Linked DNA regions of Homo sapiens. The protein of the gene in region 1 interacts with the protein of each later gene in a biochemical or structural test. Each region holds a gene or a part of one and is shown in the gene's direction. Other genes may lie near its edges.

The links. The genes of interacting proteins can lie anywhere in the genome.
Region 2: the proteins of PDZRN3 (region 1) and RAPGEF2 interact in a test that uses a peptide from one of them, tested with the Homo sapiens proteins (one large-scale study listed by IntAct).

Annotation. Positions count from the first base shown.
Region 1 is NC_000003.12:73,604,442-73,607,941, reverse strand, and holds part of PDZRN3 (E3 ubiquitin-protein ligase PDZRN3), read left to right. Parts: intron 1-3,500. UniProt on the Homo sapiens protein: E3 ubiquitin-protein ligase. Plays an important role in regulating the surface level of MUSK on myotubes. Mediates the ubiquitination of MUSK, promoting its endocytosis and lysosomal degradation. Might contribute to terminal myogenic differentiation.
Region 2 is NC_000004.12:159,337,079-159,340,578, forward strand, and holds part of RAPGEF2 (rap guanine nucleotide exchange factor 2), read left to right. Parts: intron 1-1,232; coding exon 1,233-1,390; intron 1,391-2,035; coding exon 2,036-2,276; intron 2,277-3,500. UniProt on the Homo sapiens protein: Functions as a guanine nucleotide exchange factor (GEF), which activates Rap and Ras family of small GTPases by exchanging bound GDP for free GTP in a cAMP-dependent manner.

The DNA of each region.
Region 1 (3,500 bases):
CTTTTCTTTTCCTGACCATCTCCTTGTTTATTAGCTTAAAAGGAAAGTAGTTAAAGGAAAAGAAAACAAAAATCTTTCATTCAACAAATAAGTATTGAACATAGGCTGTTTGCTAAGGGCCAGGAGATACAATGGAGGCCAGAAAGACTGAGGCCCTGTGGTCATTGAGTCCTGGTGGGGATGTCAGACAAGAAACAAGTGAATACAATAATTAGAGATTGGATTGGAAGAAGTATGATGAAGGAAAAAAAAATGGGAGGATGGCACATGGCAGATACCAGCCAAGAAGCAAAGGGTATCATTAGCTTGGGTTATCAGGAAAGACAAGAGGAGATAGTAGTAAACAGAAACCTAAAGGACGAGAAGATGCCAGCCATCCAGATAGGAATAGTGTGTGCCCTGCCCTCATGGAGCTCACCTCCAGATGGAGAGACTGATGAGTTGGGAGAGCATAGCACTGCTCTCATTGATGTACTCTGTGCCTGCCCACAGCTAATGATGCCCTGGGATGAGTTAACCCTGCGGGAGGAGGTGTCCTGGGGAGGGGCCGTTGGAGCTGAGTTCAGAAGGTTGAACAGGAATTTGCTAGATCAGAGGACCATATTTTATTTGTATATATAATGTGTACACAGTACCAAACGAATACATTATGTGCCTTATAAAAAGTTACGTACAAAAGGGAGTATTTTAAATAATGAAATTAAAATATGACTATGAAGAAAATGTGAAGTATGTTCTCCTGCCATTCCAATGCATTGTGTTACACGCATTCACCTGTGAAGACCCCTGAGCTAGAAGAAAGCGGTTGGACGCTGGGGTTTTGCAGGGGTGGGGATTGGCGCTCATACAAGGCCTGGAGCAGGAACAGAGTTGGGAACTGGGGGAGCTGCAAGTAAGCAGAGTGTGGAAAGAGTTGAGGGATGGGCAGGGAAGTGGCCAGAAAGAGGCCTGGTGAAGAAAACAAGGGCTTGACCCCAAAGGGCCTAAGTCTTGAGTCTGGGATTTAAATTACCTAGGGCGGGAGTGGCCAACACATGGCTTCAGTTGAAGGGAATGACACAAAGAGATTTATGATTAAATTCCCTTTGCTTTTAGCCCATTCCACAGTTTCAAAAAGAAACAAACAATGGCTTATTATAAGAAACAACAACTTAATTATGTGTTTGCAGTTGTTAAAATGATGAACATTATCTGTCTTATCAAACATACATATAAAAAAGAACATTTTAAATGGTGAGACTAAATTGTAAATATGAAGGTAGATGGGGACAGGGATAATTCCCACTTTATTGAGCCCCAGGGATGTCATCACATGGTTGTATTTCTTGCATTCGCTCTGTGGAATTCTTAAAAAACTATAGAACCGCGTGAGGTTGGTATATTTTTATTTTTTCCTTTTACCAGTTGTCTGAGATCCCAGGCTGCATGTCATCATGTGCTGTTCTGATTTAGTCCTTGCTGCCAGGGGTCCTCCGTACTCTCCAGCCTTCGGAGGGACTGAGGGAGCAAACTGCACTCAAATATCTAGACATTTGGCTCCAGGAAGCAGCAGGGTCAGACTTGAGCCCGTGGTTCAGAACATGAGCCCATGTTCTACAACTTACCATCAAGAACATGTTTTGCCATTTAGCACAGATGAGTTGGCTGTTCCTTGTTTACATTCATAATTATTCCTCCACCCTTTGTTACCAGTTTTGAGAAACAACTTTAATAAATTAAGATTCACTTCACAATTAGGTGTTTCACAAGCTATAGCAAACAAAAGAACCCAAACCAAGAAGACCTATTCCCTGCCCCAGGTCTAAACCACACCAAAGCCTACTGTTGGAAATTGCTCAAAATGGAGAGGCCTGTGGCCAAGTGATTGTTGGGAAACCTACTGTGTTAAAGCCAGTGAAGATGGTGTTCAGTTTCCACACTCACCAGGTGCAAAATGACATTCCAACCCCACTGGAATACAGTTCTTCCCTGTGCTTATCAAAGAGCATGTCTAAGTTATTTTCTTTTTCTTTTTTACAAAAGGTGCTTTAAGTACAAGCCAGACCTGATTTTGTAGCTTGCATTAGTATTTTCAATTTATGTGGTCTTTTTGCAAGAACTGCCTGCATGGTCCCCAGAGGAAAATTTAATTCCATGTGCATGTGTTTGCCATAGTGTTTTTCAAAATTTGCCCTGATTAGCAGAAATAGCATCATGAAACCTGAATGTATTCTGCACTGTTGCCTGGAAAATCTGGCAGGTCATTGAGTACATGCTAAAAAGCCAAGATGAGCAACAATGCACACACGTTGTTAGTTACTAGAAGAATACAGTACAAATGATGTCTGTGTTTCCCAAGGAATTCCTGTGTTAGATGCTTGGTTGGGTTGTGAAATAGCCCAGCCATAGCTCTGACATAAGGCTTTTCATTGCATGATCAGTATGCAATACTCTTAGCAAAATCATATCATTCATTTGTTAGTCCTCATAACCCTAAAGAAACAGCAGCTAGTCTGTTGTATCAAACCTCTCACTTAAGCCTTTGGGAAGTGTACTTTATCGTTAGGTACCCTTGCTATGAAAACAATCCCCTTTCATTTCTCTCTTACTCAAGGCAGCAAAACAAAATAAATTCCAAGTCATATTAGTTCACCTTGATAAATAGCTGTAACTAACTCTCTTAGGAGAGGAGCCAAACAAACTAAGAATAAAGAGATGCCTTTTAAGAGAGAAATCTAGCTTTTTTTTTTTTTTTGAGACGGGGGTCTCACTCTGTCACCCAGGTTGGAGTGCAACGGCACAATCTTGGCTCACTGCAACCTCTGCCTCCCAGGCTCAAGCCATCCTCCCACCTCAGCCTCCCAAGTAGCTGGGACCATAAATGCTCGGCTAAATTTTTGTATTGCTAGAGATGGGGTTTCACCATGTTGTTCAGGCTGGTCTTGAATTCCTGAGCTCAGGCGATCCACCAGCCTCGGCCTCCCAAAGTGCTGGGATTGCAGGTGTGAGCTGCCATGCCTGGCCTGCTTTATGTGCTTTTTGCATCCTTCCCCACCCCTCACCACTGTCTCAGTTTAATCTCACTGCTGGTGTTTGTTCTTGCTTCTTCCTCTCTGATTTTTGCTTGAACTTTCTAGTACTCCTTAAGAGTTATTACTTATGTGCAATGTGGTATTTTGCAAAACAAACGAAAGCCAAAATCCTATCCCCTATCTCCCTCTTTCTCTCCAGCCAAGAAATGCAAAGTGGTTAAATCAGAGTAAACACAGATCTCTTTTCATTTGATATATTGACATCACCTCTTAGGGAACTCAAGCTTGTTCATAAATCTTTTGTGGTCCATTGAGACTCTTCAAGTTCATCTAGTGGAATATTCCATAGCCTGAAATGTTGGACTTCTGAATTCCTGTGTGTTTTGAGTTTTCTCAGTGGGAGACAATATTGCACACAGAGCATGTAATGTGCAAGAGGATCCGCTTCGCCTCAGTTTGAAACTGAGCCATACCACTTTTTAGCTGTGT
Region 2 (3,500 bases), on another chromosome or scaffold:
AGTAACAGGCTTTTTATAAATGGAAATGAGTTTGTCACTGTCGATAATAACCAGTATTTCTCTGGATACTTAAATGTGTAGCTAGAAATTTTGATCAGAGAATTAAAAGTGAGTCATTGGATTTCTGTTGGCTTTTCTTTGATGCTAGGAAATGTCACCATGCACCACTGTTTTTTTATGCTCTGTATAATCAAGAAATAATGTCTGTGTCAGTCTCCTTACATTTGACTCCATAGTGATCTCATTTTTTCTCTAAAACATCGAGAATAAAATTAGGACACTTTGGATTTTTTTCCTCCTGTTTTCATTTTACCCAATTTCTTCAACTATTGAAGGTCAGATTATAAAATAATTTATCATTCTGATGCAGAACTATCAGTTGAGTGAGTTAAATGTATTCTTTTTAATGTGCTTTTTTTAAAATCCATTTCCATCAGAAACTAGAGCTTATTTTTTTTTAAATATATTTCTGTGCTGAGAAACTACTAATATTTTTTATGGCTTATCTACTTAGAAAAACCATAGGTTTGGCCGGGCGTGGTGGCTCACGCCTGTAATCCTAGCACTTTGGGAGGCCAAGACAGGCGGATCACAAGGTCAGGAGATCGAGACCATCCTGGCTAACATGGTGAAACCCCATCTCTACTCAAAATACAAAAAAATTAGCCGGGCATGGTGGCGGACGCCTGTAGTCCCAGCTACTCAGGAGGCTGAGGCAGGAGAATGGCATGAACCTGGGAGATGGAGCTTGCAGTGAGCCGAGATCACACCACTGCACTCCAGCCTGGGTGACAGAGTGAGACTCCATCTCAAAAAAAAAAAAAAAAAAAAAAAAGAAAGAAAAACCATAGGTTTTAGAGAAACATACTATACACTTAAGAAACAGCAAAATGAGGCTGGGTGCTGTGACTCATGCCTGTAATCCTAGCACTTTGGGAGGCCACAGCAGGAGGATCACTTGAGGCCAAGAGTTTCAAGCCCAGCTTGAGCAACAAAGCAAGATGCTATATCTAAAAACAAACAAACAAAAACAAAAAACAAAAACAGGAAAATGAGTTGGATACACTTAAGCAGTAGTTGCTTTTGCAGTTTTCAACCAAATTTATTAATGGTGTTTTTACATGAGCTGCAAAAAAAAAATGGAATATGGTTTTTGGTCTGTGTTTATTATATAGTGATGATGTACAACTTTTTAACTTGTTGATAATTTTCTAATTTTCCTCTTTGTTCAGTGATATTGGGATTGGTCAGTCTCAAGATGACAGCATAGTAGGATTAAGGCAGACAAAGCACATCCCAACTGCATTGCCTGTCAGTGGAACCTTATCATCCAGTAATCCTGATTTATTGCAGTCACATCATCGCATTTTAGACTTCAGTGCTACTCCTGGTGAGTATCACCAACACTTCTTTTGTTTTCTTATAGTTATCTTTTTATTTCTAACATAATGGTCATATTATATGTATCTCTCTTCATTTGGCATGGATTATATCAGATGCTGAGTAAGGATGAAACTTAAACTTTAAGATTTTTGAAATCAGGTGTTGGAACCAGTTCTCTTTACATTCAGCAGAGTATTTTTATATGGCCATAGGCAAATTATCTGTCTGAACTTGTTTCTTCTTTCATAAAATGAAGATAACACATCCCATGCCATGATTACTAAATCATATCAAATAGATAGAGTAAGAGGCATATTTTAGGTCTAATTAATGGACTTTTCAATACAGTAAAGATTAACTCTGGATTTAAATTTTATTTCTTTGATGCCAGCATGACAGTCTTGAGTGCTACTGTTGTGTACTGATGTGCTTGCAGCTGTCTGTAGTTCAATCTGTTATCTTTTAGGGAAAGGTATGTTCTTGCAGCAAAACAGCATGTAGATTGATTCTTTGAGGAAGACCTAGAGTAAGGGAGAGGTAAAAGTTCAGCATTGCTTTTTCTTAAGGAGCTTTTTTCTGATTACTTTGCTTAATTGCATTGCCATATATTAAAATTCTTTCTACTTATGTGTGTGATTTTTCTTTCCCCCAGACTTGCCAGATCAAGTGCTAAGGGTTTTTAAGGCTGATCAGCAAAGCCGCTACATCATGATCAGTAAGGACACTACAGCAAAGGAAGTGGTCATTCAGGCTATCAGGGAGTTTGCTGTTACTGCCACCCCGGATCAATATTCACTATGTGAGGTCTCTGTCACACCTGAGGGAGTAATCAAACAAAGAAGACTTCCAGATCAGCTTTCCAAACTTGCAGACAGAATACAACTGAGTGGAAGGTATATATTATCTACCTTACTGGATTTCTTTGTCCCCTCTTCGAACCCACATCAAAGTCTAAGAGATGAGCAATTTTCAAAGTGTTTTTTAAATGAGTAAGTGTCCCTGCGATTAAAAAGTATTGTTGTTGTTTTTTTTTTCCTTTCACCAAGAATTACTGTATGAAAGCAAATGCACACAGTCGACTACTGACCCTAACAAGGATCTCTTAGGAACTTGTTCAAGGCCACTGTGACCTGAAGGTTGTTACTGACTTCCAAAATGCGTGCTGTAACTTCTCATGCTTGCCTTGGGGTCCTGGTTTGGAAGGGTAGAGTATGCTTGATGTAAAGTCACGGGGTTAAACCCTGGTGCTGTCTTCCCTTTGTATATGTACGTTCACAAACACATTTTCTAATCATATTCTAGTGTCATTTGCTCCTGCATACCCAACTTTTCTAGGAGCTTCCTTAGTTTAGGCAGAGACATCTGTGACAATGTGGTTGGCCACTTCTGCCTGTTATTGTACATTATGCTATGAAATACACTTCTTAACGCTGAAACCAGACTTTACTTGCTACAGAGCTTAGTCCTTTGCTGCAGAAGTGCTTATATCACACGTTACTTGCAAGAAAATGTTGTGTCTGATTTTATCATTCTCTTCAATGATATTTTCACTGTTAGGTATATGTAACTTTATCTTCAAGTCACAATAAGTAAGTGCAAGTTGAAAAAGAAAATAGTTGCTTTGGTTCTCATAGTGGCTGGTTGCTACACTCAAAATTAAGTAGTTCCATAAATCATATTTTTTCTATTTTTAACTTACGGAGTGTTTCACTGTATTTGACTTTTTCATGTTATAGATTTAAACCAGGATATAATTCATTGAAACCTTTGATTTTCTTGCCATCAACTATAACTTTCTTATTCCTCTTCACTTTTGTTTTCAAACACTAGCAAATAGTTTTGTTTTAGTAGCTCTGTTTTTTCCACTTATCATTTCAATGCACATTGATATATCTGGAACCACGATAGAGTTTTACAGAGCTCCACTGAGCTATAGATTCATGATTCACATTCATTATTGAAGAAAATTATAGATGGGTATGTCATGGGCTTCATGAGTAATCAAAATGGAGAATGTTAAATCTGTGAAAGTCAAGGGCGCAAAGTATATATTTTCTGTTATATGTGTTTGCCTTGGTGAAATACACAAAAAAAATTTTAGTAGGGCCCCTACTATG